Linked DNA regions of Homo sapiens. The protein of the gene in region 1 interacts with the protein of each later gene in a pairwise test. Each region holds a gene or a part of one and is shown in the gene's direction. Other genes may lie near its edges.

Region 1 (5,732 bases):
AGATTTATTTCCCATGAGTCTTGACCCCTCCCCTCAGTTGGTGCTATTTCCCCCTACCCGCCCTCCGATGATCTTATCAGAGCCCACAGGTTCAGTTTTCTTTCATGCTACCTGAATGTCCTGATAAACTGGCTCGCTCTCTTCTTTACCTTCCATAATGGCATTACCATTTACCACGCCACCCAAGATACTTACTAGGAACCTCAAAGTATTGTATTCTTTTTCTCCATCACACTCATACTTAATCATCAAGTCCTTTTGAGCTTGTCTCCTCTTGAATATGTCCCTTCTTAATTCCTGCTGCCTTCTTAGTAAAGGCCTTCATTCTTTTTTCCCTAGTAATAATCTTTTCCATATGTTCCAGTTAAAATACCATGTTCTCCCTATTCCTTATTACATAGCTAGCATTCCTTGAAAAAAAACAATTCTCTCAGGCCTCCATACCTTTAGCATGTTACCCACTCTGCCTCTGCTCTTCTGGAACTAGAACACTCATCCTTGAAGGCTGGGCTTCTGTATGAAGGTTGGTCCTGCCTCCTTACTTGAGGTGAAGCTTTGTACATGCCTGTATTACGGACATCCTCTTATTTAAGTGTTTGTCTCTTTCGTCATTGGGACTCCAGCACCCAGCATAGTCCCTAGTATACTAGTTGGTGCTGAATAAATAGTAGCTATTATTAGAAAAGGAAGGGTGAAATTGACATGGGAGTTAGTAAAATGTATATGGAAATGATTTTTAAAGGGAAAGGTAATGATTTTCTGGCAGGAAAAGCAGCAATGACAAGATTACTTAAGTCTTGTGAAATAACACTTCTCTTCCTTGACCTGCTGCTTCCCTTTTTTACCACACACACACGCACACATACCACAGCCCTTTGAGACTGAAAGCAGCTCTATTGAGAATAGTAGTGTCAACTGTATTATGTAGAAATTCTAAAGTTTTTGGGATTATTTCATAGCCCTGACCTTGCTACTTCTCTCCACTTTATGTGGCAGGTTTAATCTCAGGTCTCCCTCATACACTTCTCAGCCTCAGCACCTAACCCTCACACAACACTCCAGTATTGATGCAGTCAATCTTGTATAACATTTTTTGAATGTCCAATGTGCAAAGCACGATGTTGGAAATTATACAGAGGTGAATAAGACAAAAACTCTTGCTCTCAAAGATGTCAGTCTTTTTCTTTGCAAGGATAACACATGTAGAGTAAAATGCATAAAGGGGACTAATTTTAAATGTACAGCTTAATTAATTTTTATGTATGTTAACACCCATGTCACCACCATGTTTAGGACATTTCCAGCACCCCTGAAATTTCCTTCATGCCCCTTCCCAGTCTGTACCTACACCTCTAAATCTATTTTCAATCTTAATGGCCTTTTAAATAACTGGGCTTCTCACAACCATAGTGAACAGAAACAGCTGGGTTGTCAACGTCTAACCTAATACTTCAGGAAAACTCATGATGGTTTCCATGTTAAGAGAGACATGGAGCAGGGCACTGGCATGGTGGATGGATCACGCCTGTAATCCCAGCACTTTGGGAGGCCGAGGTAGGGGGATTGCTTGAGCCCAGGAGTTCAAGACTAGCCTGGGTAATATAAGGAAAACCTGTCTCTGCAAAAAAAAAAAAAAAAAGAGGATACAACCAAATGGAAGAACATTCCATGCTCATGGGTAGGAAGAATCAATATCGTGAAAATGGCCATACTGCCCAAGGTAATTTACAGATTCAGTGCCATCCCCATCAAGCTACCAATGCCTTTCTTCACAGAATTGGAAAAAACTACTTTAAAGTTCATATGGAACCAAAAAAGAGCCCATATCGCCAAGTCAATCCTAAGCCAAAAGAACAAAGCTGGAGGCATCACACTACCTGACTTCAAACTATACTACAAGGCTACAGTAACCAAAACAGCATGGTACTGGTACCAAAACAGAGATATAGATCACTGGAACAGAACAGAGCCCTCAGAAATAACGCCGCATATCTACAACTATCTGATCTTTGACAAACCTGAGAAAAACAAGCAATGGGGAAAGGATTCCCTATTTAATAAATGGTGCTGGGAAAACTGGCTAGCCATATGTAGAAAGCTGAAACTGGATCCCTTCCTTACACCTTATACAAAAATCAATTCAAGATGGATTAAAGACTTAAACGTTAGACCTAAAACCATAAAAACCCTAGAAGAAAACCTAGGCATTACCATTCAGGACATAGGCATGGGCAAGGACTTCATGTCTAAAACACCAAAAGCAATGGCAACAAAAGCCAAAATTGACAAATGGGATCTAATTAAACTAAAGAGCTGCTGCACAGCAAAAGAAACTACCATCAGAGTGAACAGGCAACCTACAAAATGGGAGAAAATTTTCGCAACCTACTTATCTGACAAAGGGCTAATATCCAGAATCTACAATGAACTCAAACAAATTTACAAGAAAAAAACAACCCCATCAAAAAGTGGGCGAAGGACATGAACAGACACTTCTCAAAAGAAGACATTTATGCAGCCAAAAAACACATGAAAAAATGCTCATCATGACTGGCCATCAGAGAAATGCAAATCAAAACCACAATGAGATACCATCTCACACCAGTTAGAATGGCAATCATTAAAAAGTCAGGAGACAACAGGTGCTGGAGAGGATGTGGAGAAATAGGAACACTTTTACACTGTTGGTGGGACTGTAAACTAGTTCAACCATTGTGGAAGTCAGTGTGGCGATTCCTCAGGGATGTAGAACTGGAAATACCGTTTGACCCAGCCATCCCATTACTGGGTATATACCCAAAGGACTATAAATCATGCTGCTATAAAGACACATGCACACGTATGTTTATTGCGGCATTATTCACAATAGCAAAGACTTGGAACCAACCCAAATGTCCAACAATGATAGACTGGATTAAGAAAATGTGGCACATATACACCATGGAATACTATGCAGCCATAAAAAATGATGAATTCATGTCCTTTGTAGGGACATGGATGAAATTGGAAAACATCATTCTCAGTAAACTATCGCAAGAACAAGAAACCAAACACCACATATTCTCACTCATAGGTGGGAATTGAACAATGAGAACACATGGACACAGGAAGGGGAATATCACACTGGGGACTGTTGTGGGGTGGGGGGAGGGGGGAGGGATAGCATTGGGAGATATACCTAATGCTAGATGACGAGTTAGTGGGTGCAGTGCACCAGCATGGCACATGTATACATATGTAAGTAACCTGCACAATGTGCACATGTACCCTAAAGCTTAAAGTATAATAAAAAATAAATAAATAAATAAATAAGAAAAAGAAAGCCAGGCATGGTGACATGTGCCTGTGGTCCCAGCTATTAGGGAGGCTGAGGTGGGAGGATCCCTTGAACCCAGGAGGTTGAGTCTGTAGTGAGCAGTGATTACGCCACTGCACTCCAGCCTGGGCAAGACCCTGTCTCAAAAAAAAAAAAGACTTAGAATTGGTGATCCAGGCCGCCTAATGGCATCAAATAATTTGTTATATCTTTAATTTATTGAAGGATCACCACATGCTTTTAAATAGCATGGAGAAATGGAAAGAATAGGGACTTTTTACTCAGGTAATACCCAGCCTGCTACCTAACAGGTTGTGTTGTACTAAATAAAATGGTACATAAGAAGAAACACTGTAAATTATATAGTGCGAATCAAATATTGTTAATAAACCAATATCTGTATATCCTATGTCCCGGATTAATCTTTAATTTAGATACTCCTTCTAGTTATCTAATACACAGCAGAGTGAGAAAAATCATTATGGATTAGGTTCTTTAGTAAGAAACCTGAGATGGACTTCTCATTAGCATTAACTAGTTATTGCCCAGCTTTGGAGAGCCTTCTTTTGGCTTATCATTTATTATAAGCCCAGAAATAGGTGACTAATCAGAGATAAATGTATGGGTTGTCTGTATCTAGTTTTATGCCTTTTTTTTGCCTAAGACGTAGTCAAATTAATATTTTAACTAATACATCTTAGCAGAGTTTAGTTAAGCACAAAGTTAACAGTGGGTAGGATTGAATCTTGAAAGTAATCATGTCTGTAATGTTTTTCATGCATGCAAAAAGCACAGACAAAACCACTCATGCCCTATTAATAAACAAAATACAGATCAAAGTTTTCAAAAGTAATCACTCTATTTATTCTAAATGTCTGTGGCTTTAGGAAAATACCACCAGCTAGTACTTACCTATTTAAAGATGTAGAATTTATTATCCTCTAATATTCTTATCAGTTGTTTCCACAACTTTAGTTTACTATTGGACTTTCAAAAATTTAAAGAATTACAAGTAAAATTCATTAAACACTTGTGTGTGAATAGTAATACACAGTAATTAGTACAGCATGTTGCTTCTTCAACAAATTGAGTTTTCAGGGAAATCAGCAAGTAAATGAAATATAAATTTTTGGTAAAAGTATCAAACATTCATCTTGCCCATTTTTCCTCTTAAACTTTATTATCTAATCAAACATAGTTTTCCATAAGATGTAATAAAATATAGATAAGGTTGGAATATTTGAGGATCCATTTGTGGAACTGAATTTAATGAGACTTCATTGGTGATACACTCAATTTTTACTGGGTAATTAGCTAATAATGTTGGTCACTGTCTCACAGTTCAAGTAGCTTTAAGATGATGTGGCAAGGAAAACACAAAGCTTTTGGGTAACCAGCGTTCTTAAATGTATGGTTTTTGACCAGGTGAACCCTTTAGAAGTGATTTCTGTTTTAAAAGTATGTACTTAAAATACCTTTGGCTGTGATGAATGTAGATCCCAGCAGAATACCAAAATCCTATTTTTTTTGACTGAGTATTTGTAGATGCTTAATGACTGAAATGAATTTGGAGGCACTGATGAAAGTGATTTTTTTAAAGTTCTCAGGTACTGTTCAATTATTTAATGTTAAGTTTAGTATCAAGATACAGTTGTTTTTAAAATGCCAAAATGCTGTTTATTATACAGAATATTTTATTACATTTGCAATATCTTTGTATATAGTGATTTTTTTCTTGATAATAAATGGAAAAATTCTAAAACACTTGCTGAAATTTTGTTGCTATTTAACTTTTAAAATATCAGATTTTCTTCATATTTATAGCATCTTCCTAACAGGAAAAGGTAGTTTTAGTTGCTTAGAAACATTAGACATTTTTATGGAATGCTGTTGCTGAATATGGTTGCATTTGTAACTGTCCTTTGAAATAATTTTGTAGAGTACTGAAGTGCCTTTTTACAAGATTTTTTTCCTTTTTCCTTTTCTGGCTTAACCAACAAAAATCTGTTTTCAGAGTCCTGGAGGCTGAAAGTCCGAGATCAGGGGTACTAGGACGGTTTCTGCTGAGGCTCTCCTCCTGGCTTGCAGAGGGCTGCCTTCCCATCATCCTCACATGGTAGAGAGAGAGAAGGATGGAGATCTAGGGTGTCTCTTCTCTTTTTTGAGACAGAGTCTCACTCTGTCATCAAGGCTGGAGTGCAGTGGCACAATCACATCTCACTGCAACTTCTGCCTCCTGGGCTCAAGAGATCCTCCCGCCTCAGCCTCCCAAGTAGCTGGGACTACAGGCGCATGCCACCATGCCTGGCCAATTTTTGTATTTTTTGTCAGAGTTTCATCATGTTACCCAGGCTGGTCTCAAACTCTTGGGCTCAAGTGATTCACCCGCCTTGGCCTCCCAAAGTGCTGGGATTAC
Region 2 (7,431 bases), about 37 Mb from region 1:
CACCCTGGCCAACATGGTGAAACCCTGTCTCTACTAAAAATACAATATTAGCTGGGCGTGGTGGTGTGTGCCTGTAGTTCCAGCTACTTGGGAGGCTGCAGCAGGAGAATCGCTTGAACCCGGCTGGCGGAGGTTGCAGTGAGCCGAGTTTGCGCCACTGCACTCCAGCCTGGGTGACAGAGCAAGACTCCATCTCAAAAAAAAAAAAAAAAAAAAGAGAGAGAGAGAGGAAGGAAGGAAGGAAGGAAGGAAGGGGGAGGGGGAGGGAAGGAAGAAAGGAAAGGAAGGGCAGGCACAGTGGCTAACACCTGTAATCCCAGCACTTTGGGAGGCTGAGGTGGGAGGATCACTTGATGCCAGTATTTCAAGACCAGCCTAGGCAACACAGGGAGACCCCAATTCTACAGAAAAATTTTTAAAAATGAGGTGGGTGCTCACTTTGGCAGCACATATACTAAGACTGAAATGATACAGAGCGTAGCATGGCCCCTGCACAGGGATGACTTGCAAATTTGTGAAGCGTTCCATAAAAAAGGAAAATAAAAAATAATAAAAATAAAAATAAAAATTAGCTGGGTGCAGCGTCCCACACCTGCAGTCCTAGTTACTATGGAGGCTGAGAGGATTTGAGCTCAGGAGTTCAAGGTTACAGTAAGCTATGATCACACCACTGCATTCCAGCCTGGGTGACAGAGTGAGACCCTGTTGGGGAGGTGGGGGTGGGGGCAGTAGGGGAGGAACGTGTGTAGTATGTGACAAATTGAAATTAACATGTGCTTCATGTAAGATGTCTACATGGTACCAATGTACCTTAGGCAGTCAGAGGTAAGGATTTGGAAATCACTGACATAGGGTTAATCATTAAAGTCAAGGTAGTGGAGAACCTCACTGTATAAGATCAGAGGGCCAGGAGGACCAAGGTTTAAATGCTCTTCAGGCATTCCCCAACGCTACTGATTTTGCCTGAAACTAATTGTATACCTATTGTTTCACAATCTCCAGAGTATAAGTTTTTTGGAGAACATGAAATCAAGAACCCTGGGTGTTTTAGGAGGGAAAAGACCACTGTATTAGTTCAGGTCTCCGGAGAGGTGGTCAGAAAACTAAGAGCCGGTGCTCAGTATATAACCATTTAATTCTGTTTTTCATCTTCTTTAAAGACAACTCATGACGAGAATCAAGGGATTCAGGTGAACTGGCATTTCCAGCAGGTTTAAACAAAAGTACATCCCTCCCCCAACTTGTTTTCCAAGTTTATTGTATTTCCACTATAAAATGATTTCAAGTTCTTTACACTTATTTGGAAACAAAAATCATACACAAGAAAAAAATTAAGAAGAGTTAACGAAAAAACATTCATCCAAAGAAAATTATGACTAATCCCTCTAGACTCTTCTATGCATAGTTTGGCTGTCAAACTTTTTCAGTTATACTGTGCAACTTTGTATCACGGTTTTCATCTAACATTATATATTAGCATTTCCCTATGTTATTTAAAAGTTTAATAAATTAGTTTTAGAGGCCACTTCACATACACTCAGTGAAGTGACATAATGTACTGAACTGCTCCTAGCTGTACCCAACTTTATCCCGCTACCCGCTATAAATAAAGCTCGGACCGAGGTCTTAAGGCTTAAAGCATTTCCTGACTTTGGATGACTTCCTTGGGACATATTCCCAGGAGTGTTATTCACGAGTCACGGTCATAATCCCTCATTTACACCCACCCCTAGCTCGATCCTCATCCCGCGACCCCTCACACGCGGCCCGCCCCATTCTCCTCATCCTCTCTGCACGCCTGAATCTCCTCCTTCCCGCCCCCTACCCACCAAGAGCCGATCCACTTCCCTCCTGACCCCCTACAGCCTCCCCACACCCGCCAGGCCCGGCAGCAGTGGAGATGAAATACCTTAGGTCTCACTGCCTCACAAAAACACCAATCTCTCTGTGGCCGCCCAACATCACGCCGCCGCACATAAGAAGTTCTGGGCAGCCACCGGAAGCACCGGCCCTCAGTCCTCTGATAGGTGGGCGGTGATATCGGTCCTCTGATAGGTGGGTGGTCCTCTGATAGGATAGGCACGCTCCGAGATGGCCCCGTCTATTGGCTTTTGAATATGCACATTAGCAGAGGGTTCGTCCCACTGGCCAATAAGCTCTGGCTCTGCCGCACGGATCGCTGGGAGTGGTAGTCCCCGTAAAACCACCGACCGCAAGCCCGCCACATTTTCCCTCCCTTAAGCACTTGAGCTCTTTCCCCACTTCTCGTCGGTTCTCTTGTCTAAGGAGTCCAGGAGCCCTAGGATCACCACGGCTTTTTAACCTTCTTTAAAATCTGATAAAATCTCTCAGGAAAATGTTCTTATCTGTACACAAAATACTGTGCATTGAGCTGAAGCCGCTGCATGGGCCTGTCCCAGCTACAAATCCCTGTTCTACCCCGACCCTAAGCGTGCCTGCTCTGGCCGCAGCCTATGGATTTAGTGCGTCCCTTAGGCTTCTTCAGACCTATGAGGAATTCCAGGTCCTGACCCTCACAGTACAGTCGACAATCATCTTTCTTTAACAACACAGCCAGAACACCTTCAGGGATGCAGACAACCTCATCTGGGACCTAAGCATCCGGGAGAGTGGGGATGAGGAAATGGAGGAAGAACACCCTTGGGGCTCATTCTGGACCAGTTTGCCAGGCTTTTCTCCCCATGCCTATCTTCCAGTGCCACTCAGGAGAATCATATCTTCACATCAGTTTTTATGTTTTTCTTTTTCTTTTCTTTTCTTTTTTTAAAAATAAAGATGGCATGCCTGTAATCCCAGCACTTTGGGAGGCTGAGGCGGGCGGATAACCTGAGGTCGGGAGTTCGAGACCAGCCTGGCCAACATGGTGAAACCCTGTCTCTACTAAAAATTTAAAAATTAGCCGAACGCTGGTGTCTCACGCCTGTAATCCCAGCTACTTGGGAGACTGAGGCACGAGAATCGCTTGAACCTGGGAGGCGGAGGTTGCAGTGAGCCGAGATTGTGCCACTGCACTCCATCCTGGCGACAGAGTGAAGATTCTGTCTCAAAAAAAAAAAAAAAAAAAAGGAGAGAGAGAGAGACGGGATCTCGCTATGTTACCCAGGCTGGTCTTGAACTTCTAGGCTCAAGCAATCCTCCTGCCTCGGTCTCCTACAGTGTTGAGATTACAGGTGTGAGCCATTGTTCCAAAAATTGATATACTTGGCCTCACATCAATTTTTGGAACAATGCAGGTAATAATGAGGGGGAAAAAATTTTAAAAGTCCCAATTACCCTTTAAACAAATATTACCTCCTCCAAAAAATATTTTTCTAGATTCCTGAATGTATTTTTTGGTGGAGGAGGAACTCAAAGTAGAATTCATTTACATATTCATTCATTCATTCCACAGCACTAATCACTCCATGCAGTAACTGTGTGTCCCCGTCCCTCTCAGACTTAGTACCTGGAAGACAGCCAACCTGTCTTAATTCTATTGGTATCCCCAGGGCGCATTTCTTTGCCTTGAAAATTGAGTACCCAATAAATGTGCGTCGAGCAGAACTACACGAGATGGAGAACAGGGGTTTAGGGGTATGGGGGAGAGTCAGCAATTACTGGTGTCCTCCCTCCCTCCCCCAGCTCTGCTCCTACAGATCCAGGACGCCTAGCGAGGGTAGGAACCTCTTCTGTGCTTCCGCAACGCTCTGAACTGCACGGCACTGAGCGCATCTAATTAAAGTGATGGTTTCATTAGATAGCAACACAGCGAGACCCCGTTTCTACAAAAAATAAAAATAAAAAATAAAAGATTAGCTGGGCGTGGTTGCTCGCGCCTCTAGTCCCAGCTACTTGGGTGGAGGCTGAGGAAGAAGGATCGCTTGAGCCTAAGAGTTCGAGGTTGCTGTGAGCTATGATCGCGCCACTGGACTCCAGCCTGGGCGACAGAGCAAGATCCTCTGTCTAAAATAAAAATAAAAATAAAATGATGGTTTAATCGCCGGCCTTTGCCCCTTCTGCCCCCCACCCCCCACAAGTCTGTAGGACTGGGTTGACTTCCCAGAGCTTACTACAGATTAGATGCTAAATAAATGTCTATTGGACGGATGCGCGAATGAATGGATGGATGGAGGATGTGGTTGTGCTTACCACGCTCCCTGGTCAGTGGGTTAATGTCGTCAGGCGGGGCCAGGCTCGCTAACAGCCGGGCGGGGTCCCTTCCCCCGGGCCCCGCCCCGGCCGACCCCACCTTTCCGCGCGGCTCCGCCCCGCCGCCCCCTTGCCAGTGGCCCCTCCCCGCGCAGGTCCCGACTCCAGCCGCACCTCCTCCGGCTCTGCAGTGGCGGCGAGGAGGCGAGCCGGAGCGACGGCGGGGCTGGGGCCGGAGCCGAGCCGGGGTCGGGCAGCAGCAGGGACCCCCCAGAGGCGGGGCCTGTGGGACCGCTATGGGCGTGGAGATCGAGACCATCTCCCCCGGAGACGGTACCGGGCTCCCTCCGGAGCCAGGGGAGGGGAGGGGTCCCGGGGCGGAGCCCGGAGGGCGGGGGTCTGATTCGGAGGTGGCGTGGAGGGTGCTGAAGGGTCGGGGGGCTGGATGGGGAAGGCAGGCGGAGACGCCGGACGGGATTCTTGGGGGTCTAGGAGACCATCCTCCGCCATCCTCTTCCGCGCTCACCTAGGGGAATGTAGGCGGCAGCTCGGAGGCGGGGGTCTGCGGCCCGGAGGCGGGGGTCTGCGGCCCGCCACCGCCCCGGGCTTCTCCTGTCGCGGCTGCAGTCGTTCGGTTATCCGCTGCTGCTGATACCCCAGCCTGGGTTTCGGCTTCGCTTTCCCTGCCCTACTCGGCGAGCTCTGGAAAGCAGGACCTGCTCTCGGATACCCGCTGCTCGGGGACCTCCTCCTAGCGCGTCCCCCGCCGGGCCTCCCCTCGGTCGCTTCCCTGCGGGCCGGGCTGTGAGCGGCTGTGGGGACAGACCCAGGCTGGGGAAGGGGGAAGCGCTCCCTTGCCCGCTTCCGGATCTCGCTTTATCCTGCCGCCGCTTTCAGACTCCCTGGCCACCCTGTCCACTCCCATGGCCTCCACATTGAAGCTTCTAAGCCCAGCCCTGCGACCTACGGCCGAACCTCTCCCTGGACGTCCCAGGGTGCTCCCTGGTCAGCAAGTCCAAAACAGAACTCTCGCTTCCCACCTTCTCTCCTAAGTGATCCTCTTTATCCCCCTTCCGTGTCTCACTTTCCCAAGTCCTTGTATTACTGGGTCTGGGTGTGCAAGGAATAGCCATTTCTTTATTTCTTGAAATTTAATTAATACCAAAGCCCCCATTGTCTGCAGGGTTTGATGGGCAAACTTCATATCAGATATTATTAATATGAACAGCTCCCCTCCCCAGGAAATTGGATAACTTCTTGGCTCCAGGCCATCTTCCTTGTCCAATCCCAGCCACTACTTCAGATATCCCCTGGAGTACAGGCTTCTTTGCCCACGCAGGAAACATTGCTGCTGGGTCCCAGAAAGCATCTCCCTGAGGCCTTTTCATCCCTCAGCAGCCCCTGAGCTAATCTCCCCATCTTCAGTCTCTCCTCCCTGCTTTCAATCTCGTCCCCAATCTCATATTCACTCCCTTTCTATATCATAGCCTGAAGACTCTTCTTAAAATGCAGTGGCTCACGCCTGTAATCCCAGCACTTTGGGAGGCTGAGGCGGGCGGATCACAAGGTCAGGAGTTCGAGACCAGCCTGACCAACATGTTGAAACCCCGTCTCTACTAAAAATACAAAAATTAGCTGGGCATGGTGGTACGCACCTGTAATCCCAGCTACTCGGGAGGCTGGGGCAGGAGAATCACTTGACCCTGGGAGCCAGAGGTTGCAGTGAGCTGAGATTGTGCCATTGCACTCCAGCCTGGGTGACAGAGCAAGACTCTATCTCAAAAAAAAAAAAGAAAAAAAATGCATGTTTGACTATGCCCCTCCCTCAGGCAGAAGATGTTTTAATGATTCTTCCCTCTCCCCCAGGAGGGGCCTTTGGTGCTATGGTCTATTCTCATCTTCCACACTAGAGCTTCATCTCTCACCACCTGTCCTAAGCCCACCACTAACTTTTTCCTCCAGCTTTCCCAAGCTGCCTGCAAGTTGTCAAACACACCACTCGTTCAGCAAATATTTATTGAACGTGTGTGCTAGGCCCTAAGGTGACACAGTTGAAACAGACAGGGTTCCCGCTATTGCTGGACTGAGGGCCTTTGAACATGTTACATGTTGTTCCCTCTTCCCAGATGGTGTTTTTTCACTTCCTCTGGCAAACTCTTACTTGTCTTTCAAGACCTGGCTTCACCATTCTCTCCTCTATGATGTTTTCCTTGACTTCTGTGGTCAGTTAGCTGCTCCCTCCTCCAGGATCCCATAGAGTCCTCTAAATATCGGCTCTGTGGTTAGGCTTCCTTAGGCTTTGTATCCAGCCCCGTAGCTTTAAATTCCAGCCAAATTTATACCTCCAGTGCAGACTCTTCATCTGCCTACTTGCAATATAAACTCAGATGTCTAATAGGCATCTCAAGATTGCCACCCGCACAAATCTGTTCCTCCCGTCTTCCCTATCTCAGGAAATAGTTGCACTATTCATCCAGTTGCCCAAACAGAAAACCCAAGCATCGTTCTTGTTGTCTCCTTTGTCCTCATCCTGGACCCCATTTCCAGTCTGATTGCATGACCTGTCAGCTCCGCTTCGAAAATATGTCTCCAATCTTTCACTCTCTTCTCTGCTGCCACCACCTTAAATCAAGCTATCATTGATTTCTTGTCTGGATTATTGCAACAGACGCCTAACCGTCCATCCTACACATAGCAGCCAGAGTGATGTTATAAAATCTTAATTCAGATTATGTCATTCTCTGGCTTAAAACCCTCCAGTGGTTTCCTATTGCACTTAGTATTAAATCCGGCTCTTCAAGCCCTGCATGATCCATGTCCTTCCCACCTCTCTCCTCCCTCCCTTCTTTCCAGCACCTAGCCTCCTTGCTCACTGCAAATGTGTTGATTCTGTGCACTTGTTACTCCTTTCCCAAGTGCTATTTCCCAGTATTTTGCTCATCCTTCAAGTCCCAGCTCCAGGGGGCACCTTCTCCAAGAGGCCATCCTGGACCACTCTGTCTGAAATGGCCTGTCCCACTGCATCTCCCTTTAATACATCATTGTGTGTATTTTCTTTAGAGTATTCATCATAATCCATAATCATTTTGTATATTTAAGTATTGTCTCTGTCCATTAGAATATAAACTCCAGGGCGGGTTTGGTGGCTCATGCCTATAATCTCAGCACTTTGGGAGGTTGAGGTGGGAGAATCTCTTGAGCTCAGGAGTTCAAGGCCAACCTGGACAACATGTTAAGACCCTGTCTCTACAAATTTTTTTTAAAAAAATTAGCTGGGCATGG

The links. The genes of interacting proteins can lie anywhere in the genome.
Region 2: the proteins of REL (region 1) and FKBP1B interact in binary tests that used the Homo sapiens proteins (3 or more experiments, as listed by UniProt).

Annotation. Positions count from the first base shown.
Region 1 is NC_000002.12:60,926,533-60,932,264, forward strand, and holds the end of REL (proto-oncogene c-Rel), read left to right. Parts: 3' UTR 1-5,080; downstream 5,081-5,732. UniProt on the Homo sapiens protein: Proto-oncogene that may play a role in differentiation and lymphopoiesis.
Region 2 is NC_000002.12:24,045,405-24,052,835, forward strand, and holds the start of FKBP1B (peptidyl-prolyl cis-trans isomerase FKBP1B), read left to right. Parts: upstream 1-4,336; 5' UTR 4,337-4,445; coding exon 4,446-4,482; intron 4,483-7,431. UniProt on the Homo sapiens protein: Has the potential to contribute to the immunosuppressive and toxic effects of FK506 and rapamycin. PPIases accelerate the folding of proteins. It catalyzes the cis-trans isomerization of proline imidic peptide bonds in oligopeptides.